Regions from separate parts of the Homo sapiens genome. Here all the other regions are linked to region 3. Evidence: fine-mapped expression QTL. A gene starts in region 3. Each other region holds a variant in brackets. All regions are shown on one strand. Distances are between the middles of the regions. Region 1 overlaps CFI (complement factor I). Region 2 overlaps CFI (complement factor I). Region 3 holds the start of CFI (complement factor I).

What was found. PIP is the estimated chance that this variant, and not a neighbour inherited with it, causes the effect.
Region 1: its variant is fine-mapped to the expression of CFI in subcutaneous fat (FUSION, PIP 0.95).
Region 2: its variant is fine-mapped to the expression of CFI in subcutaneous fat (GTEx, PIP above 0.99). The same link has a PIP of 0.9 or more in sun-exposed skin, thyroid and tibial nerve.

The regions. Positions count from the first base shown.
Region 1 is chr4:109,737,474-109,745,661 of GRCh38, forward strand. It overlaps CFI (complement factor I), which reads right to left. Exons shown (of 13, transcript NM_000204.5): 12 at 5,018-5,122; 13 at 3,222-3,637. The coding sequence ends at 3,420. Among named protein-coding and RNA genes, the nearest start is that of PLA2G12A, 11 kb to the left of the region's middle. The variant T/A (reference allele first, on the strand shown) is at 3,240.
Region 2 is chr4:109,758,972-109,767,159 of GRCh38, forward strand. CFI (complement factor I) reads right to left here. Exons shown (of 13, transcript NM_000204.5): 2 at 7,583-7,853; 3 at 5,566-5,719; 4 at 2,546-2,721; 5 at 1,552-1,665; 6 at 1,299-1,409. Among named protein-coding and RNA genes, the nearest start is that of PLA2G12A, 33 kb to the left of the region's middle. The variant T/G (reference allele first, on the strand shown) is at 3,527.
Region 3 is chr4:109,797,891-109,806,078 of GRCh38, forward strand. It overlaps CFI (complement factor I), which reads right to left and starts at 4,109. Exons shown (of 13, transcript NM_000204.5): 1 at 4,025-4,109. The coding sequence starts at 4,081. It overlaps LOC124900757 (a long non-coding RNA gene), which reads left to right and starts at 5,782. Exons shown (of 2, transcript XR_007058226.1): 1 at 5,782-5,945.

The DNA of each region.
Region 1 (8,188 bases), 60 kb before region 3:
CAGCCGCATAATTTATTTTCCCATTTCTCTTGTAAGACAGAGAGCTCTGAAACCAGGGTTAAATATAAGACGATGGCAGAGCTCCACATCCAATGAGTTGTGTCCCTGGCCACCTTCAGGCGAGCTCACAGAAGCAGCAATGTCCAGTGCCCAGGCTCTGCAGTACAAGCTGTACGTGGAGACTGGGACCCATGCTAGTGGCCATGGTAGTCTCTGATGGAGCAGTCCTGCAGTGTGGTCTGTGAGCGTTATTTCCAGATGTGTAGACTCCAATTCTCTGGCTCTTTTGGAAATTCTGTGAACTGCATAATATCTTTGAATAAATCTATTTTTTCATTAAACCAGTTAGATTGGCTTCTGTAGTCTGGAATTAGGAGCGCTGAGACAGACCTCTAAACTAGGAGAAGCTTGGAGTCAGGTCATCTCACTCCTGCTGTTCCTGGTCTCTGTCACATAGAGTCGCTTCAGAGGGCTGACTTTCACCCTTCAAGGCTTGACCCTGGTCTACTTTTCTGTGAAGCTGCCAGATGCTAGGTCACTGTGCAGACTGGCTTGGCCCTTTTGGGGGCCCCCTTCCTAGATTGGCTGAGGATGCCCTATATGCTGGGTTTCCCACCTTGTAGCACTGGAGTACTTTTCTTTTTTTTTTTTTTTTTTTTAAGACGAGGTCTTGATCTGTCACCCAGGCTGGAGTGCAGTGCTGCAATCACAGCTCACTGCATCCTCAACCTCCTGGGCTCAAATGATCCTCCCACCTCAGCCTTCCAAGTAGCAGGGGCTGCAGATGTGCACCACCACTCCCAGCTTTTTTTGTGTGTGATAGAGATGGGGTCTTGCTATGTTGCCCAGGCTGGTCTCAAACTTCTGACCTCAAATGATCCACCAACTTTGGTCTCCCAAAGTGCTGAGATTACAGGTATGATCCACTGCGCCCAGCCACTTTTCTCTTTTTATCTCATACACAGACATATTCTAAGGTGCTGCGTTGCTCCCGGATTGCTGAGTCAGGACAAGGTGGTTTTCAAATATGTCCATAAATTCTTTGATACACCTCCTCCCTGCCGCCATCAAGAGATGGGTTATTTCCTTTCCTTTGAGCCTGGGCAGGTCTTTGTGATGCTAAGGGACTTCCAAAGCTGGGTTAGAGAAGGCCATGCAGGTTCTGCAGTTTCTCTTGGGAGGCTCATCGGCTGCTATGTAGGAAGTCTGGTGCCCCCGGCCCTGCCATGTTAAGAGCCCATGGGGAGAGTGCAGAGAGACATATCTGAGAAGCCCCAGCTGTCTAAGTCCGCCCAGCCCAGGCACCAAACACATGAGTGAATAAGCCTTCGTGATAACTCTGGTCCAATCCTGTCTGACGGCAACAGCATGAGAGACTGGAAGGGGAACTTCCCAGCAATAAATAACCAAATACTTTCCTGAATTTAATGGATGAAAAATCTGGGCAGCATGGGAGGGAGGAGTGGTGAGTTATTGTTTAATAGATATGAAGTTTCAATTTGGGGAGATGAAAATTTTCTGCAGATGGATGGTGATAATGATTGTACAACAATGGGCATGTATTTAATGTCACTCAACTTTACACTTACAAATAGTTAAAATTGTTACTTTTATGTTATACATATTTTACCACAATTTTTAAAAGAAAATCTGGGCAGTAACTGATTTTGGAATATATGTAAAAATGGGTATTTATATTATTAAATCAGTAGGGATCTATCCAAGACTGGCCCTAAATAAAATAATAAAGGGAATATTTATGTGAAACATATATGTCTGTCTTCAGGATAAAGATAGCTGTGCTTAAAAAAAAAAAAAAGAGTAGCTAATGTTTATTCACTGAGCAGCCTCTATGAGGCAAGTGGTAGGGATGTAGCCAGAAGGAAGACAAATGAGGTCTCTCTTGTCATGTGTCTTATGTTGTAGTTGGAGGAGACAGTGTTGAGAAGAGGTAGACAACCCAATCAAAACAGAATACACTGGGGGAAGAAAAGTACTATGCTGAGATTAAAGTAGGTGGTGTGACAGAGGGAGACTGGGCACCTACAATAGCCTTGGGGTCGGGTGGGGGTGCTATTTTCTGTAGGTTAAGAAAGTGCAACTGTTGAGTTTGGGTTGACCACTTTTCTTTTGAAATGTTACTAGATATTCACATGGCAATGGTATATACTAGTGTTCAGTGGCATATACTAATCTGAGGTTCTAGGAAAGGTCAGAGCTGAAGATCCAGATTTGTGAGTCACCGGACTGTAGGCAGGATTTAAAACGTAGTCTAGATGAGATTACCAGGGAAAGGCAAAGTGAGAGAAGCAACCAGAAGGAAGAGGCTGAGAACAGCAGTGAGGGAGGAGTGTGATGCCCTGAGGGGCTAATGCTGCTGCGATGAGAACAGAAGTGACTGTGAGGTCTGACACCATGGAGGTAGGTGGTTGTATTGAATTATCTGTGGATAGGTTTAGAGAGAGGGTCAAGGAATGCTTGTGAAATGGGGGAGCAAAGGCTAATTTTTCAAGAAATGTTAATACTTAAAGAAGCAGGGGCCTGGTGTGGTGGCTCACGCATGTTATCCCAGCACTTTGGGAGGCCAAGGTGGGAGGATCCCTTGAGCCTAGGAGTTCAAGACCAGCCTGGGCATCAAAGCAAGATGCCTCTCTACAAAAATTTAAAATTAGCTAGGCATGGTAGTGTGCACCTGTAATCCCAGCTACTCGGGAGACTGGGGTGGCATGATTGCTTGAGCCCAGGAGTTCAAGGCTGCAGTGAGCTATGATGGCACTTCTGCAGTCCATCCAGGGCAACAGAGGGAGACTTTGCCTCAAAAAAAGAAAGAGAGAAAGAGAAGAAAGAAAAGAGAAAAAGAAAGAAAGAGAGAGAAAGAGAGAAAGAAAGAAGGAAAGAGAGAAAAGATGAGAAAGAAATAAAGAGGAAGCAGGGAAATGGGACAAGAGCTGTGAAGTCAGTTATTACCCTGTGACAGGTACTATGCCAAACATTTATGTAAGTATGTAGTTTCATTTTCACAGAATTCCAGTTTCCATTTTATAGGTGGAAAAGGAGACACAAAGAAGACAATAAATTGTCCAGGGCATAGTAGGTGATAGAGCTGGGATTTGAACCCAACCTTATGTAAGTCCAACATTATTCAATTAGTTGTAACTTCAGTCAATAAATCACTCCCGCATTGAGATAATTTAATAAAATTTTCTGATAAATAAAACTTGTATGCTTCACCAAAATAT[T/A]TATTTGAGAATTATACAACAAAATTCCAATATGGCATAAACTCTGTGGAGACCTTTAAAAATATCCAGTGAGATTTGCTTCATTTTTCCCCCCTAGAGAATTATTAATTATACCGTTTTATTTCCATTAAATGGAACTCTTGAGAGAAAAAGAATAGAATGAAGAGAGAGATCACAATTTTATACATTGTACTGAGAAATAAAAGGCCTTCCTACATGGTAGCTAATCCAGTCAAAATAATTGGCCACTTTGGTGTAAACACCTGGGAACTCTGGTTTTCCACAGTTTTCCCCCCAACTCACAACACCCCAGACATAAGTCACATTGTTGGCATCCATACAGACTAAGGGGCCTCCAGAGTCCCCTTTACAGGCATCGATGGAACCATCATATGTACCTAAGAAAGAAATGTGAAAGAGAAAATCACACATTTCCTTCCATTTTTCAAGGCTGCCATGCCTCCTCCATGGCATTTAACAACTTTGGCTTTTTTACAGTTTCCTGACAGCAATAGCATGGGCTCTCCTTAGAGTCCCTGGCTGGGCTTGCAGAGTTGCAGAGATGCAGCTTGGAAAATTCTTTACGAGTCTTCTATTTATTCCCCCAATTCAGCATGTTCTTCCTGTGTTCTCTACTTTATACGACTGAGTACTGAGATGAGATTGCAACCTGAAAGTTGCATCAAATGCTGAGTAGGAAAATGATGGGACTGCCTAGTGCTTACTGAGTGCTAAATATTTATTAGTCATTCATTGTCTTCATTCTTACCACAACCCTATGAGGCAAATATCATTATTGCCCCTATTTTATACATAAGACAACTATGACACGGAGTTTAACTTGTCTAAGGTCACACAGCTAACAAACGACAGGGCCTGGACTTGAACCCAGGCAACCACACCTCAGAGCTTGTCCTCTTGACCATGATACTCCCTTTTGGGAGATTTTGTGCTATTCACCTATTTTGTCCACTGTAATCCTGAACTCCATTTCAAGATGGGAGGACACTTTCTTCTTACTCATGATTTTCTGAGATTTTTAAATCACTGTAACCAGTAAGTTATAGGATGTCAATAACTGCCTTTTCAGTAATACACCATTTAGAAATGGTTTCAATAAAGCACCTAAATGCACTACACTGGCTGGTACTTTGCCTGCCTCTGTATCACCTCCAAAAGTAGGAGCTGCTATTGTTGTATTGGGCAGTAGAATTAGCTTAACCATGTTATCAAAGGAGTCCGTGGCGTAAGAAATGCGCTGTGATTTCCATGGAGGGAAAAATTTACTTCCAAATGGAAGTAAATCTCATCTCATTTGAGATGAGATAACTTGAATTTGTATTTAAAAGTAATTTAGTTTTGATCCTGGGTGTACCACCTCTTGTCTGTAAGACTTTGGACAAATTATGTAACTGCTCTGCATCTCAGATGCCTTATCTATGATCTTCAATTTTACAAATGAAGAAACCTGCTCAAGGTCACATGACTAGCAATTAGTAAAAGCTGGGATATAAATCTAGGTCTGGTTCCAGAGGCCGTGCTCTTAGTCACCTTGCTGTGCTGCTATAGAATCGCTTAAGGAGGATTTTTCCTCATAGTATTAGAGGAAGAAACCTGAGCTACAGGGAAGGGACTGAAAGAGTTTGAGAGTGCTACAGCCAGAAGGCCAAATGGAGGGAATTAGGGCCCAAAGCATGGGGGCTGATGTGGTGGGAGGAGATGTTTGATAGGGGAAATACATACATCTTGACATCTTGGATAAACCACTTGGCACTTACCTGCACATTCCATTTCTTTTTCATAGAAACGATTTCCGTAAAACTTAGAGCAGTTGCTTATTAGTTTAACTTCACCCCACTGAAGTGAAAAGACTCTTTCGTTATCTAAACAAAGTGAGAAAGCAAACATTTAGAAGTCACAAATGAGAAATCTAAATACATACTCTCATAACTTAAACCATTGGGATTATGAAAGGGTGTATAGTTTTCAATATATATAAATTTTTGAGAACTCTTCCTTAGCGTGTTTAATCATATCATATGTCTATTTCTAAAATTGGATGGATAGTCAAGGGGGACTATTGAACATATGGTCTGAAGTCACATTCATTTAATAAAGAGCTGGTACCTTAAGTTGAATGAGATAAATCTTTCCCTTTTGGTTGCAGAACTCAGTCAGGCAATTGGATAGGAATCAGTGATAAGGTCTTTTCACATAAATACCTCCTATCTTCTCACAGTCCCTTATTTCCTTGAGAATGTTTGTTAAAGCAAAAACAATGTTTTAATATAAGAACTTCAAATAAAGGAAATACATACGAAGTTATCAATGTTTGTGTGTTTTTGTGTGTCTGAGAAGAAAAATCCATCTCCTAAGTGATTTGAAGTTATTTAAAAGGGGATTTAAGATTTTCTTCCTCAAGTGATCTGCCCCACTCAGCCTCCCAAAGTGCTGGGATTACAGGCATGAGCCATCGTGCCCAGCCAGGAAGGAGTTTATTTTTTTTTTCCTTTAAGCTCTACTTCAAGTTAGTCTCAAGACACCTGCCTTCCTTAGAACAAGAGCTTTTTTAAAAATAGTAATTTCTTATTTCCTCTAATTTGGGAAAAGCCTTTAAAACTGTGAGCAATTCTTAATGGCCCAGGAGATAGTTTGTGCCTTGGCACTCTTGTAAGCTTCTTGAGGCAGCTCTCCGACGGTAGCTGAGGCAGCGAAAGGGCAGAATTTTAACTACTAGACTTTAAGGTGGTCAGTAAACACCTTGAGAGCTGGACTTCATCTTTCAGCCATGGAACTTATTCATCCCCTTGTTTGTTGACTGGGTCCATATTTTCCATCAGTGAAATCCTAGCACTTTAGCATTGCTATCTTGCAGACATAGTAAATCCTCAATAAATGTGTTAAACCATTATTAATAAATGTGTTAAACCTTTGATCATTGATTAAGGACATATCTAACTATCAGTTTATATGAAGTACATGGAATAAGGGAACATGTTAAATGCTAGATCAGGCTGGGCACAGTGGCTCATCCCAGGACTTTGGGAGGCCAGGGTGGGAGGATCACTTGAGCTCAGGAGTTTGAGACCATCCTGGGCAACATGGCAAAATCCCATCTCTACAAAAAATACAAAAATTAGCCAGGCATGGTGGTCCCAGCTGCTTTGGTGGTTGAGGTGGGAGGATCGCTTGAGCCCCAGAGCTCAAGGTTGCAGTGAGCTAGGTTTGTGCCACTGCAGTTTAGCCTGGACAACAGAGCAAGACCCTGTCTCAAAAAAAAAAATCCAGATAAAGAATGTGATTAGCCAAATTCAAGGTATGGGAATTCCAAAATAAGAATTACCCATTCTCTTTAATGATTAAATTTTAAATAAAAGGAAGGGGTAACTATTCTAGATTAAAACATTTAAGAAAAATAACCACCAAATGCAATGTGTGGACTTTGTTTGGATCTTGATTCAAATAACCTGATTATAAAAATATTTTTAAAAATAAATGAGGAATATTAAACATGGGCTTTATTTTATTGGGTATGAAAATGGTGTTGTGTCCTTATCTGGTGAAGATATATACTGGAGTATTCATGGGTGAAATTATATGACATCTGGGATATGGTTTAATATACTCCAGGAAAAATATGTGGGGGAATATGTTGAATAGCTCCTGAATGTGCCTCAGACCATTCTCCACCCTTCAATGCCGTGCATCCTGCCCTAAGAGCCTGACCTGTGGCCTCTGGTTCCCAGGTGGTTTTAGACAAAGAGGACCCTAGCAGGAGGGAGGGAAGGAAAGAGGTAGGCTAGTGAGATTGGGACTGGCTATACCCTTCAGCTCAAGATCCTTGCTTCTCTCAAGGCAGCCTGCTCTACCTGAGACTTTTTCTCCATCTAGTAACTTCTCCTACTCTTCCGCTTTCAGATCCAGGAGTTAAGACAGCTCTGGTACCTCTAGTCCTGGGTACCTGCGTAGCCCCTGTGATTCCCCAACCCCCTACGTATATCTTTGTAATGAACCCTTTTATAAATAAATCTTCCTAATTGCTCCATTGAGACCCCAATTAATATGGGGAGATACAACAAGAATGACAGAATGCTGATAACTGTGAAAATTGGATGATGGATAAGTAAGGGTTTATTATACTTTAATCTCTATTTTTGTGTATACTTGTAAATGCACATAATAAAAGATTTAAAAAAACAGAACAAGTATAAGGACACAATACTCTCTTGATGAATTAATTCCTAATACAATTTGGTGTTTTAGAAGTTTTAGGTATTCAGACATACCACAAATCCAGATTAATTTCTACATATATTTTACACCTTCCAATGTGGCAATTATAATGAATGTGTTGGAATATGAGTCTAAAAGACCAATGCAATGAAGGTACTTAGAGTTTCTGCTATCAAAGAGAATTTAAGATGTTGAAAGGAAGCTAAATTTTAAGGTTAAATCTTCCTTTTTTTCTGTTATGCTTGTGGTTGTTTTGAGACAGAGTCTCGCTCTGTCACTCAGGCTAGACTGCAGTAGCACAATCATGGCTCACTGCAACCTCAACCTCCCGGGCTCAAGTGATCCTCCCACTTCAGCCCCCCTCAACCTCCAGGAGCTGGGACTACAGGTACACACCATCACATCCAGCTAATTTCTAAATTTTTGGTAGAGACAGTGTCTCAAACTCCTGGGCTCAAGTGATCACCTGCCTCGGCCTCCCAAAGTGCTAGGATTAGAGACATGAGCTACTATGCCCAGCCCAAGGTTAAATCTTCAAGATGAAGGGAAAGGTGTTGACTAGTTTAATTCTAATCTAATCTCTAATTCAGCAGATCTTTCTAAGAATTTGTCTCTGAGTGTCCACATCTTTTATTCGTATGAAGTGTTCACCACAAGTCTTCTTAGAAGTTCAAAAAATGAATTCCTTATGTTCTTTTTTTCTTTGTAGAGAGGGT
Region 2 (8,188 bases), 39 kb before region 3:
AATCCCAGCTACTCAGGAGGCTGAGGTGGGAGAATCCCTTGAACCCAGGAGGCAGAGGTTGCAGTGAGCCTACATTGTGCCACTGCACTCTAGCCTAGGCAATAAAGCAAGACTCTGTCTCAAAAAAAGAAAATAAAAAGAATTCTTGCCTAAAATATTAAACCTTGCTCTTAAAAAAAAGTGTTCATTTGTCATTGACTCGAAGCTCAAAACCTTGGTTATAATCAAGTCTCTCTAAATCTAGAATAGACGTATACTATAGGCAAACGACTCAGTTTCTCTAAAAAAAAAAAAAATAATAATAGTATGAAAAAAATTGGGGTAGGGAGGTGGGGAAGATAACTCTTGATGAATAAAGAAGACTTTAAAAACGTAATAACCAAACAGAACATTCAGATTCTTTTAGATCCTGATTTGAATCTATTCATTCAAAAAAGACATTTTTGAGATAGTTGAGAAAATTTGAACATGGCTGTTATTAAATGACGTTAGTGAATTACTATTATAGTGAATTATTATATCTAACATAGATTTTAGATATACAAATGAGAGAATGAATGGTTTTATATATATATAGTGTTTTTATCACTGGAGATGCATATAAATGATGTGATATGATATCTAAAATTTACTTTAAAATACTGCAACAGGCCAGGTGTGGTGGCTTATGCCTGTAACCCCAGCACTTTGGGAGGCCAAGATCATCTGAGGTCAGGAGTTTGAGACCAGCCTGGCCAACATGGTGAAACCCTGTCTCTACTAAAATACAAAAATTAGCCAGGCATGGTGGCAGGTGCCTGTAATCCCAGCTACTTGGGAGGCTGAGGCAGGAGAATCACTTGAACTCAGGAGGTTGAGGTTGCAATGAGCCAAGATTGTGCCACAGCACTCCAGCCTGGGCAACAGAGCAAGACTTCATCACAAAAAAAGTAATAGTAAATAAAATAAAATACTCCAACAAACATACAAACAAACAAACTGGAAGAGAGATAAGCAAGATTGGCAAACTATCAATAACTTGCAGGTGGAAAATGGGTACTTAAGGATTGGTTCTAATGGTCTATTTTTTGTATGTGCAGTGAGACCGTCTTTTAATAGAAAGTTCTGAAATAACAAGTAGATATTTAGCGGATGAAAATATGAGGAGATGAACATTCCATAGTTCTGCAAATGCCCACTCAGTGTTCTTACTGCTACACCCATCTATGTTCCCCTTAAGATTATACTTTACCTAAAGAAAAGTTTCAGAATCCCTGGATTCAATAATGAAAAAAAGTCACCCCAAGTCTTTCAATTACCTGCACAGCCAACTTCATCTTCCCCTGTAATGCAGTCCACCTCACCATTGCATTGATACTGGCTTGGAATGCAAACACCCGATTTGCAATGGAAGCCTTTGCCTTGGCATGCTGTGCAAACATAAGCAGGAGAGGTTTTTTTCATTCCTTAAAGTTGAATGAGGTACAATATAAAATTCAATAGTAAAGTTGCTTTTCCTCTTTTAGTCAGAAAAATGAATTTAGAGGATTTAGAGGCTAGATTTATGTCTACCTTTACAACACAGTTCATCACTTTGGTCTCCACAATCATTGATACCATCACAGGCTTTCATCTGAGAAATGTATTTCCCATTCACACACTGAAAGAAGTCATCCATTGGAGAATCTGTAAAGCAGGAATTATCTTTGTGAAATTTATTTATGGAGTGGTGGCATGACATCCTTATCAGATTTTTGGGATAATGGAGTCATTAAGAGAAAGTTAAACTTCAAAAAAATGTATAAAACGTATTGGTATTATCAACATAGTACATATGACTCATACAGAAAATAAAGGTCAAACCTGGCTTATGGAGGCTCTTCTATTATCTCTGAAAGTCAGTATTAATTGTGAAAGTCTATATTTGCTGAGATGGGGAGGAATCAAGAGTACGTGCTGACATTGACAAACACTGGTTTCCACCCATTTCTTTCATGCTGCTATACTCATCCTCACCCCTACTCCCAAGACTTGCTTGGTTAGTGCCATTTGTTTACATTTTGGTGGTACTTTTTTTTAGCACTGAAAAGGAGTGGGTATAGGTTTGGTCTTTAAAACTACATGTATGACTAAAATATTCCAGTGTCAGGAAGGAGGAGAAAAGTCTCAATGAATGCCTGAAAACTGAGGCACCAATGTGGTCACTTAAAGGTTTTAAATAAATTCATATATGCTGGCCCTCTTAAAGGAGATGCTGAGCTTTCTTCTTATGTTTGATTGACTTGTGTTTGCTACAGTAACTTTAATCCAGATGTTCAAATGAAGCAAGGGGAGTCAGGCAACTTTGCTTCCCATATGTGAACCTGTAGAGAGGCAATGTTTGAATGGCAAAATGGTACAATAGGGGAAAGGTACCAATTTAGACTCTAAAGCCCAAAACTTGACAGAATCTATATTATTGCCTCTGTGACTGGCAACGAGGCATCAATCATTTGTTTACTATAGGCTTGGTGTAAAATAAACAACCTTCAAGGAAGGGAAAATAACAGGCAAATACTCCACCAACCTGCTTTCTGTGTATAACAAACCACATCAGCGAAATCCTGGTAACCCATAGTTCTTCTCTTAGTAAAAGTACATTCAGCCAAACTGGTCTCTAATCCTCGGCAATGCACATGTAGACATTCAGTGGAATTTATAGAGAGATCAGACAACTTAAACCTTCTTTGAGTATCAGCACCTCTGCAAATAGAATAAAGGAAACATTATGGTAGAATAATTAGTACTTTGCATTTATAACCCTACTGTAGCAGGTAAGAAACTAGAGTAATGTCCTCTCATTCTCTATATAGGAGTTACAGCTTGGGCAAGATACCGAAACTCTGAGCCTCAGTACCTTCATCTATAAAAGGGAATATAACTACCTCACTGGGTTTTGTAAAGATTAACTAAAACTTGGCTGGGGGTGGTGGCTCACGCCTGTAATCCCAGCACTTTGGGAGGCCAAGGAGGGTGGATTACCTGAGGTCAAGAGTTCGAGACCAGCCTGGCCAATATGGTGAAAATCCTATCTCTACCAAAAATACAAAAATTAGCTGGGTGTGGTGGCCTACACCTGTAGTCTCAGCTATTCGGGAGGCTGAGGCAGGAGAATCACTTGAACCCAGGAGGTGGAGGTTGCAATGAGCTGAGATCGTGCCACTGCACTCCAGCCTGGGCAACAGAGTGAGACTCTGTCTAAAAAAAAAAAAAAAAAAAATTTCCATCTTTTCCTTTTGGGAATCTCTCTGCCTGCCCCATGCTGTAAACTTTAGCTGGTTGGTTCAATTATTGCCTAAGACTTGGAAGGTTAGGTTAGTTTAATTCCTGTAGGTCAATTTTGCTTTTACAGTAAGCTACATCTTCACTTCAGCCTTGACAGTATTAAGGTGATATTTTGGCATCTGTGTGCCATTGCTTGGACTTCTCAATTTGCTCAGAATTTGTGAGAAGAGACTTCCTCAGTGACGTATTATCCTAGAGATGATGATTTACAGTGAACTATTCT[T/G]CTAGGACATTCAATTGTTCCTTGCTTCTCTCTAGAAGTAAATGGGGAAAATAGGTTAAAAATAAAAAATTGAGCAAAGATGCATCAGGTAAATGGAAACAAAAATAGAACAGTAATGACAATATAAATATTAGACTAACTAGGATAAAAAGCAAAAATAAAACAAGGTGAAGCCAAGATTTGTAATTATTTCAGATCATGAGGCTGTGCCATGAGAACAAACAAGAGCCATTTGAGGCAATCTTATAGGTTAATAATCTGAAAAACGTACCAACCTAAAAATATCTAAAAATACTATATAAAATGCCATCTTCTTCCTCAATGAGTTCTTAAGGAAGTAAGGGAAATCTGCACTGGTTAAAATTAGAGATGTCTGTTCATGAGCTTATGCAAAATATAAGAGCAAAATACTGAGAAATAAAATACTGAGAGAATCTACCAGTAGGTTGAACCATAAGTTGTAGGTAACAAACTGCTGAAACTCAGAAATAGCCTATGGCTTAATTTAACAATATAAGAGACTCTCACTAATGAACTACTAGCAGATGTGGTTTAAGAAGAAGAAAATTGAATTCAGAAAGAAGGGGTGAGATACAAGAAAGAACAAACCAAGAAGTTGGTAAACATGAAGTAAATCTGAGTAAGCATTGCCTTAATAGTAGTGATAATGGCTTATTATATCATCATAGTGATTAACTTCTGGGATATAGAAAAATAAGGTGGAACTAAATATTAGAAACTTGATGGGTTAATTACATTTTTTTCTATTATTACTGAAGGTGAGGACTTCCTAAATCAATGATTTATGGTATAAGTTCAAAGGTAACTAAAGAAGTAGAAATATAATGCATAATTTTCAAACCAACTAGAGGTGGAAAAGAGGAAAGATTTTTAAAAATCTTTAATTTAGTAGAAATTATAAAAGGAAAAAGGACAAAAGCACACAAAAAGCAGGGTAAATAATAAGCCTAAAAACAAGAGGAAAAATAAATTCAACAATGTAAGTAAGTATAATAAGGTAAATGGACTAAACTCTTTAGTTAACAGTGATTGTAATATTGAATTAAAACAAATCTAGATATGTGCTGTTTATAAGGAACATGCTTAAAATCTAAAGATATAGGAAGACTGAAAGTAAAGAAATAGAGAAAGATCTAAACAGAGCAGCTAATTCTATTAATAATGAGTAACATATCTATTATCTAGAACCCTGCACGTGGAGCATTTGAAAAATACTCAGCCACAAAGCAAGTCTCAACAAATATTTGAAAAAATTGTTATCATACAGGGATATTCTCTAACCACACAGAATAAGAAAATCAATAACACAAAGTTAACCAAAAGCAAACTAACGTATTAATTAAAACTAATATTATAATAAAGAAAACTTCTAAATTACATATGGGGCAAAGAAGAAATTATATTGAAAGTTAGAAGATATTCTGAACCAAACAATAAATAAAATATCACTTATATATAAGTATATATACTATAATTATAGTATATAAGCTATATATAAATTATAGTTTGTACACTATACTCATAGTATATATACTTATATACTATAATTATAGTAAACTATACTATAAAACTATAAACTATAATTTATCCTAACTATATAGTTTATACTATAACTGTATAGTTTATACTCACTGTATAGTTTATAGTATAAACTATATTATATAACTATAAACTATACTCACACACAGTATATAAACTATACTAAGTGTGAAAAAGTGTACATAATTGTAGACGAGTAGGAGACAGACAGAAATGAATGTGTTTGTGACTCTCAGAATCACTAAAGGATTCACATCCAGATACTTCAACAGACTTATTATCCATGCTTTGTTGTCAGCAGGGTTCCAAGTGTTGGGTAAACATGAATGCATATCATCCTCATAACAATGCTATGATGCACATAGTTAATTTTCTTAGGTTACACATATGGAAATTAATACACAGAAAGGTTAGGTAATCAAAAAGCAAACAGAACAATTAAATCAGCCATGAGAAAATCCACTGATACAAGCGCTCACTGTTGAAACCCAAGGTCAAGGCAGGCCACGTTGGCTTCCCTCATGCTCCAGCTGCTTTTGCATATGAACATTGTCTTATCTTGGTCCACAAGTTTTACTTCAACTATTCCCTCTGAATCTGTATTTCCATGCTTCAAGGAAACACTAAACTTTCCTAAAATAAAAAAACAAAATAATGTGCAATATGTAGCCATTCACTTTTTTCTCTTAATTAAAAGTCTTTAAAAATAATAATGTACTTAATGTCAAGTGAGCTTTGAACATCATGACGATTTTAACAAGTAATAGTAAGCAATCATTTTACGAGTATTTATTATGTGTCAGCGGCAGTGCTATTCAGCTGTATAGAGGATCATTAAATACTCACATCAACCCTATGAGGATAAAGCCTATTTATTCCCATTTTTACACAAGGAACCTCTAGGGGAAGTTAAGTTCCTGGCCCAAGTGATGAAGCCAGGATTTGGAACTTGCTCAGTTGATCTCACTCCAAAGTCCATGCTCTCAAAAGTAAGCCCAACCGTGAAAATGTAAAATGTAGAAAGGGTTTATGTATTCTCGTGTATTTAAGGCATTTAATGCCTCAAGAGAAGAAAAGTCTGACACTGATGAAATAACCTCCACTATTGCCTTCTGCCTTTCCAACAGGGATGATAGATGAGCTCAAACAGGGAGCTTTTCCCCTCCTTTTCCACAGTATCTCAACATCTTAACTCAGCATCTCAAAAACATACAGGCTGCTGTGAGCTGATATATGTCATGGTGCCTTTAAAAAGAATGTTTTAAGCATTCCTTAGGTAATGAAGTGTCTGTAATAACTTGCTATCAGAAGACAATGAACCTAAGCTTTGCTGTCAGACATAAAATGTAACAAGCACTTTCTGCATGCCAAGCACTGTGTGAAGAGCCCTGCATACATTGTTTTATTTAATTTTCACAAGAATTGTACAACTTAGAAACTTCACATTTTACAGATGAGGGAACTGGGGTCCAGTGAGGTCCAGCTTGTCAACAACCAAGGTGGGGTTTGGAGGGACTTGAAACTCAATTGGACTGACAGCGAAATCCCTAATCATAACTACCCACTAGTCTGAATGCTAGGGCCCCAGCCTCCTCAGCACATGAAGCACCTGGAAGGGACTGTAGACAAGATCTCTGGGTCTGACGTCTGGGTTTGCTAGGTTGGAGTATGTCCCAGGTCAGCAGTGGCTCAAGCGGCCCTTGGATATTTAGGAACAATGGGGTCAGGGCTGGGGGAGAGGGTTGGGGGGGACGGCTGTTGAAAGAAATTATTGGGGTAGGCCACGCATGGTGGCTCATGCCTGTAATCCCAGCACTTTGGGAGGCCGAGGCGGGCGGATCACAAGGTCAGGAGATCGAGACCATCCTGGCTAACACGGTGAAACTCCATCTCTACTAAAAACACAAAAAATTAGCTGGGCATGGTGGCAGGCACCTGTAGTCCCAGCTACTCAGGAGGCTGAGGCAGGAGAATGGCATGAACCCGGGAGGCAGAGGTTGGAATGAGCCAAGATCACACCACTGCACTCCAGCCTGGGCAACAGAGCCAGACTCCGTCTCAAAAAAACAAAACAAACAAAAACAGAAATTACTGGGGCCACAGGAGGACCTGAGGCCTGACTAGACTACATGTGAGTACCAACCTTACTGGAAGACTTTTCACTGGGTTCTGAACCAACTCAATGGCCCTGGGAATAATCCCTTTAACCAAGTAGAAGTGAGGGTGGGGACAATTCTAAAGGGCTGGGCAGCAGGGAGTGGCACCGGCACTGAAGGAAGGTCTGGACTCAGCATCCCACGCTCTGCACTCAAAGGCTGGCTGGATTCTGGCAACCCCTGATTTGTTTAGTGATTACTCCAATTATTATTGAGAGTCTAGAAAAAAATTTTGAGTTGTCATCATAACATACACAAGAGAATTATTTTCTGATAGAAAGTATGGCATACAAATACCCTTTTATATCATAGAATGACTTGAAAACTAGTCTCTTGCTACCTTCGGCTGTGCATGTTCCGTTATTTAAAAACTTTGTCCCTGGATGAAGACATTCCAAACTCTTTTGTTGACAGTATGTTGGGAAGCTTCTCCTGTTAGTTGCACACACTGCAGTGCCATTCTTTGGGCACTGATACGGTAGTTTACAAACACAGGTGCCCTCAATGCATCTCTGCCATGGCTGGCAGAAGACTTTATCGCAGGAGAGGTGAGTATATTTTTTTGCTAAGCACTTTTTCTCCACCAGATCCTCTTGAGATGTATAAGTGACCTGTAAAATGCAAAATAAACATTAACTTAGCAACAAATTAAAGACTCCTGTTTGAAGATGAGTAAGTGAAGGAAAAGAGCAAAACAGATACAGCCCACAGTACAGATGAGGATGGTGTTGTCTGGTGGCTTCAAGAATCAGAAATAATGCCGCATATCTACAACCATCTGATCTTTGACAAACTTGACAAAAACAAGAAATGGGGAAAGGATTCCCTATTTGATAAATGGTGCTGGGAAAACTGGCTAGACATATGGAGAAAGCTGAAACTGGATCCCTTCCTTACACCTTATACAGAAATTAATTCAAGATGGATTAAAGACTTACATGTTAGA
Region 3 (8,188 bases):
AAAGGTAACAAATGTAGCTGAGGATATGCAGAAAGGGAAATTCTTCTACAGTTGTGGAAGAATTGATAAAGAAAATGTGGTATATACATGCAATGAAATATTATTTGGCCTTAAAAAAGAAGGAAATCCTGCCATTTGTGACAATATGGATGAACCTAGAGGACATTAATCTAAGTGAAACAAGGCAGGGACAGGAGGATAAATACCACATAATACAACTTATATTAGGAATCTAAGATAGTCAAACTCATGGAACCAGAGAGTGGGATGGTGGTTGCCAAGGACTGGGTGAGGGGGAAACAGGGAAGTGTTAGTCAAAGGTCAAGATGTATAATTCTTAGAGATCTATGCTACAGAATAGTGCCTATTGTTCATAATACTGTATTGTATACTTAAAAATTTGCTAAGAGCACAATTTCTTTGTTAAGAGTTGTTACATGCACACACAAAATAATAAATAAAGAGAGTGAGAGGAAACTTTTAGAAGTGGTGAATACGTTTATGGCATATGTTGTGATATTTTCACAGACATATACTAATCTCCAAACTCAAACTCATCAAGTTATGTACACTAAATATGTAGAGTTTATTATATGTCAATCATAACTCAATAAAGTGTTTTTTTTTTTTAAAAAGACCATTAAGTCTTTGTTTAGTGAGTCCAAAGTTTGTGGTTCTTCTGGAACAGATTATGTTCATTTCTTCTGTAAATGGTCCATACTTTCTCATATCTTTGCATGCATCATAATTTTTGGTTGAAAATTTTTGGTTGACACTTTGACTCTTACAGTAACTCTTGAAATCAGACTCTTCCTTCTGCTTGGGGTTTGTTTTGGTTGCTTGGGGTTTGCTTTGGTTGCTTGGTGTTTGTTTGATGACTTTTCTAAACTACTTTTGGCAAGTCTATTCTTTATCACATGTGGTCTTTGAAGTCTGTTCCTTTGACTTATATTCAGCTAGTATTTAGACAGAGATTTCCTTCAATGCAAGAGGAGGGAGAGAGAGAGAGAGAAGAAAAAGAAACCCAGAAAAACAAATCAAAATCTCAAAATCTCTCCCAGTCTTTGCAGATTGGTTCTGTCCTGGGCACTCACTCATCCAGGCCATTTGCAACTCTACCTTAGCCTTCACTTCATACTTGCACTGAACTTAGACAACCACCAGAGGTGCAGGCTCAGAGTCTTCTGAGGTCTTTCTGAGCATGTATCCTGCCCTGAGCATGTATGGGGCTTCCTAAACTCCCCAATACACACAGGCACTTTTGAATGCCCTAATTTTCCATAGGATCTTAGTTTTTCCCCATGCTTTGGTGCTCTGTTGTGTGCCTCCACTGTAATCCTTTGCCCCAGACAGCTGAGATTGCTCATTAATCTTGCAATGCCTGTGCTTTGTAATATTAATGCTTTTCTGCTCTGAGTTCTGAGCTAGGTGAAACCAAGACAAGTGCCTGGGGTCTGTCCTACAGGAAGGCCTTAGGATAGAAAAGACAAACACATTATTTTTGAATAAGGTCTTCTCTGTTCTTTCCAGTGCTAGGGAACCGGGTCCCTCCCTGAGTGAGAAACGTACATGGTCAGTGTTTGCTGCACCAGAGTTAGGAGAATTTCTTCCATATTAGATAGACAGATTTATATACTTTCCCATGGAAGATTAAGAAACTGAAATCTAAGATACATGAAGAAATTGTAAGTGGAAAGGCCACTTAGTGGTTGGTTTACAACAGTATTATAAGTGATAGGGTGATAGAAGTGTGGTAAGTGATTAGGATAATATTCTGCATAGTAAGAGAAACAGTTTGTATTTTTAGAAGAAAATTGCTTTAACATTTGCAAACTAAGGTAATGAGAATACAGTGAATTTCAAAATGTCTTTTTAATGACAATGTGTGAACTTGTTTTAATAAACCAAAATTTGTTGTTATTGTGTTAAGGCTATTTTATGTACTCAGATATCCTTCAAGACCACTGCCAAATTAGGGAGGGTATGGGGCAAGGACACAAAGGACAGACACGCAAAATGCTACTAAGCTTTCATACCATTTTTAGTTGCCTGTTCCTGCATTCAACATTTTCTTAGGTGCTATAAACCTTTGACTGTTTTCCAGAGTTCTAAATAAAGTTGGTTCTGACAGCTTCCCTTTGGTTTCTGTAGAAATGGATTTTTGGTTTTTGGTTTTGGTGGATCTGCCTACTCTGCCATTTCCGCTGCCATCACTTGCACTGCACACCCTCCTGTGTGCCACCCTTGTTTCCAGGATGTTGTCATTCTGCTTAACATTACCCCAGTTCTTTCTCTCTAAAATGCCACCCATATGTGCCTGAGTTTGTAATAAAATTTTAGGGTAAAATAAAATTTAGGGTATCAGTTGGTGATTACGTCACAGCACAATTATGGTAGGTAATCATGTTGACTGAAATATTTGGCTTCTCTGTTTTTTTTTTTTTTTTTTTTTTTTTTTTGAGACAGGATCTTGCTGTGTCACCCAGGCTGGAATACAGTGGCATGATCAGAGCTCCCCGCAGCCTCAAACTCCTGGGCTCAAGCAATCCTCTTGCCTCAGCCTCCCAAAGTACTGGGATTACATGCGTGAACCCCCACACCTAGTCAGCTTCCTTGTTGTTGAACATCCTCTGGTTATTCCCCCCATTAGAAGGCCCCAGCAGCCACTCCCACTGTGCTATGGGTTTCTTTTCCATCTTTTCTGAATCCCCTAGTTTCCTTGTCTGAGTAGGTTCAGTAAAACCGAAAACAGAAAATAGAATCACCAGTAATCTTATTAGCCAATGATAGCAACTATTAACTGTTTGATACATACACTGTAAGATCTTTTAGTCATATATATAAGTAGGTATAAGTATGCATTTATATATATGCATATAAACACACATACATATGTGTGTGTGTGTTTTTCTTCAATAAAAATAAAATTGTAGTAAGGACTTTTTATTTAGATAAATATGTCATTTCAATGGCTATGTAATAGTTCAATTTTGGATATACAATAATTTAACCAGTGTCTTATTAATAAGCATTTAGTTATTTCCATTTATTCTCTATTATAAACATTGCAATGATGGCAACTATTTTAGAAGTTACAAGAATCTTAAAGTGTGTTTTCTTAAGTAGTTTTCTTTAAATATTTTCTTCTACAAGCTGGCACTAAGACAAGATAGTTTTGGATTGCCACCAAAGTTGGCAATCATCAATAAGTATCCAAAATATTTTAAACATTTTTCACCTTAATAGATGACACTCTAACTTCAATAAAATATGTCATTTCAGTTTCGAGTTCCTTTGTAGCCCACAAAGCCTTCATTCTGATCAAATGGATTCATTTATTTGGAGGGGCCTAGTGCATTGCTGCCTTCCTATGGTAGCACTTGCTGCTTTTCCTGGCTAAAGAAGCTGGAAATCACTCCTCTTTCTCACCACTGATCACATGTAATACAGAATTAAACGTTCAGCTCAAATCCTACTTGATCTATAATCTCTTCATGACCTCTCAGCATGAAGTGATTTGTCCTCTCATTGAAGTCCTTTACCACATATTTGTATCACTTTTGACAATTAAATATATACTGTCTTGTAACTTGCACTTTTGTGTTTTCAGATGTTTCAAATTTGCTTATTATTTCCCCTTTCTATAACTATAGAGCGTACTAAGAGGCTGTTGAAGGAAGAGATCAGTCTCACTGTCTTCGTAGCACTGTACCTTACACACAGGAGGAGCCTGGTAAATATTTTTGATTTACTACAATTACAGTAAATCACAGCCTTGTATTAGTAAAATTCTTGTTCAGTTCAATGCCTCTGCATATATAAGCACATAAAAAGAACTATTTTTAAAAAATCACTTTTATCAAGATATTAACATAAAACATTTGTTGCTGACTATAGAGTGGCATTGTTGTAACTGAACTATGTAATATTTAAATCAAAATTATATATTTAAGATTATTTTCTATGTTTTTACAACCTTTAAATTATCAATTAAAATTGTTTGCATAAAGGTTGAATTACTTACCTTGCAAAACCTTAAGTGGAAGCACAGAAATAACAGGAAAACATGAAGAAGCTTCATGTTGGAGGTGTTCGGGGTCTTTGTCTCTGCTGAGAACTCTTTTCCACTCCAGGTATTCTTTTGAAATTTAATTTTTAACCTCTGAAAAAATGTTTCAAAAGAACAAACCTCCTAAAGAGCTTTGTACTTTTGAACTCTGAAAGAATTTGGCTGAAATCCAGAGAGATTTACCGTAACTGAAACCAAAAAATGGCCTTCCCATTAAAGAGCTGAGGGAGGTGACCAATAGGAACTTGTTTCCACCAGAAGAGACTGATTTCCTCCCACCCTGTTAATTGCAATGACTCAATTCTGTATTCCAGGGAAGACAGAAATTATATTGGAAGCAATTTTTTGGTTTTTTTTTTGTACAGTAAAAATATAATTTTTTAAACTTAAGGTTGAAGACTAGGAGACAGTAAGAATAAAAGTAGACCATATAGTGAAGGCTGCAAAATACATTTAAAACTCTAGAAACCAGCTTCTTTACCATGCATTTGTTGTGCTGTGATCAAATTGTATTTTTGGAGTACAAGAAATTTTAAAAACAAGTATTCTTGTGCCAGTACCAACTATCATGCAGGGTTTATCTATTTATGAAATAAATCTGTGATAGCAGAAATGCTGACACAGTTGGGTTCATCAGAAGCAGACTTGAGACAGTGAGTGTGGGGCACAAGTGTTTGTTAGGGATCGATATCCATACAAGGAAGGGAGGGGAAGCAGGGGTGAACAGAGGTAGAAGTTGAACTGGAGTGAGTGTGACCTGTCACAGTGCCCCTGATTTCAGTATAAATGGCTGGGCCATTATATTCTGCCTTGCTTGGTCCCCTACTATATATTGCCCAGGAAGGGCATACACTTAGGTGAGACAGTTTTCTGTAGCTAAGGCAGACACAGAAGGATCTGACAGTTATGTGCTATCAGGAGGAGGTATCTTCTGACTACACTCTTTACAGCCAGGTAGCAAGACCTTCCTTGACAAGGGTTCTGGGAAACTCATCTCTGTGTCTTTCAGAGTACATACTTGCACCTCTTAGATCTATGTTCCATATACACTCCAGGAGTGGCTCCTTAAACATTTCAGTGGGTCCCTATTCTTGAGAGAAAACTTAGAAGAGGAAGTTAATGGGAAAAACTACAGCTCCTACCCTTGCAGTTGATCTTGGGGCTGTAGTTGAAACTTACCCTTGGCCCCCTTCCTATCCATTTTAGATTCCCTTTACCTTGACCTCCCACCTCTGCTGGTCTCGGTGACTTACTGGATGACATGTCCCACACTCTCTTTCAGGAGTGGTCTGAGCCCCTGGTTACCTTTTGTTTCTCAGGCAAAAGTTGCCATTTTTATCCCTACTGTCACAAGAGGCAGGCTGGACATGGTGGCTCACTCCTGTAATCCCAGCACTTTGGGAGGTCAAGGCAGGAGGATTGCTTGAGGCCAGGAGTTTGAGATGAGCCTGGGCAACACAGGGAGAGGTTGAGGCTGCAGTTAGCCATGATTGCACCACTGCACTCTAGCCTAAGTGACAAAGAGAGACCCTCTCTTAAAAAAGAAACCAAAAAAAGCAAAAAATAAGAGGTACCCCAGTAGGTTATGTGGGTTCTACACATCTTCCTCCCTGCCCACATTATAGTAATAGCAGCCCTACTTCCTCGGAATGATCAGGGCCAATTACCCTTGTGGATTCTGACTCTTTCTTGCTAGTTCCTAGACACAAAGAGCCCAGCGTACCCCAGGCAACAGCTCTGGTTTATAATTCCATGGGACTCTTGCTTGCCCCTGGTGAAAGTATAGTCCTTTGGAGACCAAGATAACGAACCCTGCAGAGTCTACAACTGTGGAGACAAGATGCACAAAGCCCCCAGTTGGTCAATGGTGGTGATGGTAAGTGTGGTAATTCTTGCCTTTATTCCTTGGTTCCCAGACCCAGGTATTCTTCCTATTGGGAACATAATGCTATATGAAAGTCTTTGATTGAATGTATATACTGCTTCCTGGAGGATAGCACCCCATTCTCACAAAGTTTTGCATTTAACTGGCACCTCAGCTCTGTCCTCAGCAGCCCATTATAACATTCTGTAAGTCCACCAGCTTCTGAGTGGTGTGGTATGTGATATGACCAGGGGATTGCATGATCACAGGCCCACTCCTGGGCCTGCTTTGCTGTAAAGTGGGCACCCTTGTCTGGCAGGATGTGATCTTTGCTAGATAATTAAGCACTCTATAATTCTCTGGATTATGGTGCTAATGGAGGCCCTGCAGGCAAGAAAGGCACACTCATACCTCAAATATGTCTATTCCTGTAAGAATAGACCACTGACCCTCCAAAGAGTGAAAGAATCAGATGTAATTAATTTGCCACTAAGTGACTAGTTGGTCTCCTTGAGGAATTGTGCCATCTTGTGGGGACAGTATTAGTGTCAGCTGCTGTCAGGTTGGGCATTTGTTAATGATGGGAGCTAGATAAGCCTCGGGGTCTGTGCTATTGGCCTCATGGGTGGCCTCTATCTCTGTTACCACGGTCACTTCATTCTTGTGCCCATCGTGCCAGCAGTGGGGTGGCTGATGACTGAGACTCAGTCATTTTGGCTCAATCGTTTTGTTGAGCCAAACTGGTTGAGCCATTTTGTTGGTTATTTAGTGCCTTTTCTTTGGTGGATGCTTTCTAGTAGGCATTAACATGTGATACAAAGATTTTTTTTCCTTTTTCTTTTTTCTCTCTCTCTTTTTTTTTTTTTTTTCTGAGACAGTGTCTCGCTCTGTCACCCAGGTTAGAGTGCAGTGGCGTGATCTCGGCTCACTGCAAGCTCCGACTCCCGGGTTCATGCCATTCTCCTGCCTCAGCCTCCTGAGTAGCTGGGACTACAGGCGCCCGCCATGACGCCCGGCTAATGTTTTGTATTTTTAGTAGAGATGAGGTTTCACTGTGTTAGCCAGGATGGTCTTGATCTCCTGACCTTGTGATCTACCTGCCTCGGCCTCCCAAAGTGCTGGGATTACAGGCGTGAGCCACCGTGCCTGGCCATGATACAAAGATTTGTATACTTCATGCCCAGTCCTGTATGTACACATATCCATTCTAGATTCTCTTCACTCCGACCTCCCACCTCTGCTGATCTCAGTGACGTACCTGATGACATGACCCACGGTCTCTTTCAGGAGTGGTCTGAACCCTTGGTTACCATTCACTTCTCAGGCTAAAGTTGCTGTTTGCCTCCCAGAACTTTTTGCTCTTGATCTTTGAATATTTTTCATTTCAGGAACAAAAGATGATCAGGAAATCACTATTGCCTGTGATTCTATATAAGTCTAGCCTCAGGCCACCTCTCTTTCCACACGAAGTGGATGACCAGGTGTACCCCCTGCAGCTCTGCCCTTTGGGAGGACTTTCTCTCACCACTGTCTTTCAAAACCACTCCAAAGTGTGGCTGTAAAGCTGCCTCTGTCTATTTTTAACTTGCCTATATACCAAGCCAACCCATCTGTAAACAAAATGTGACCTTTTCTCTCCTCCTTCAGCTGGTCATACCAAATTCCCCAGGGAGCTATAGGTGTGAGCTAAGGAAGGGCCATGAGTGCAACTGTTTGGATGCTGGGGACAGGGGCAGTCTGGGCTACCTGCTACCTGTTTATGCACATTGCTCATACCTCTGGTCCTGTTTGTGTTTGGCTCTGGATGTCACACTTCTATCTTACAATACATTTTTCCTAGGCCTGCTTGTCCTTATACTTTGCGGGTCCATTTGGATCCAGATCATAATGGGCAGTTCTGGCCGTATGGTGATGTAGTGTCCTGTGATTCATTATTCTACATTTACCAGGAACCAGTAATATACAAATTGGTCTTTAAAAGACACACAATTCTCTGCTGCAGATGGCATGGCCTTGCTCCAGAACCCTGAGGTCCTATATTGTGGTTCTCCCACAGGATCTTCCTCAAACACCACACAGCATTTTTTCCCCCATCACTGAGACTTCTGATGCCATAGAGTCTGCTGGACCACTGCAGAAGCCATTTCTGCTTTGGCAGCTGGAGCAGTATTCCCTACTGCAGAATATTTGCTCCCAGAGTCCAAAAAGCCTCATCAGATTTTGTGCTTCCTTCTTTGTTAAAGAAAGTACAAGAT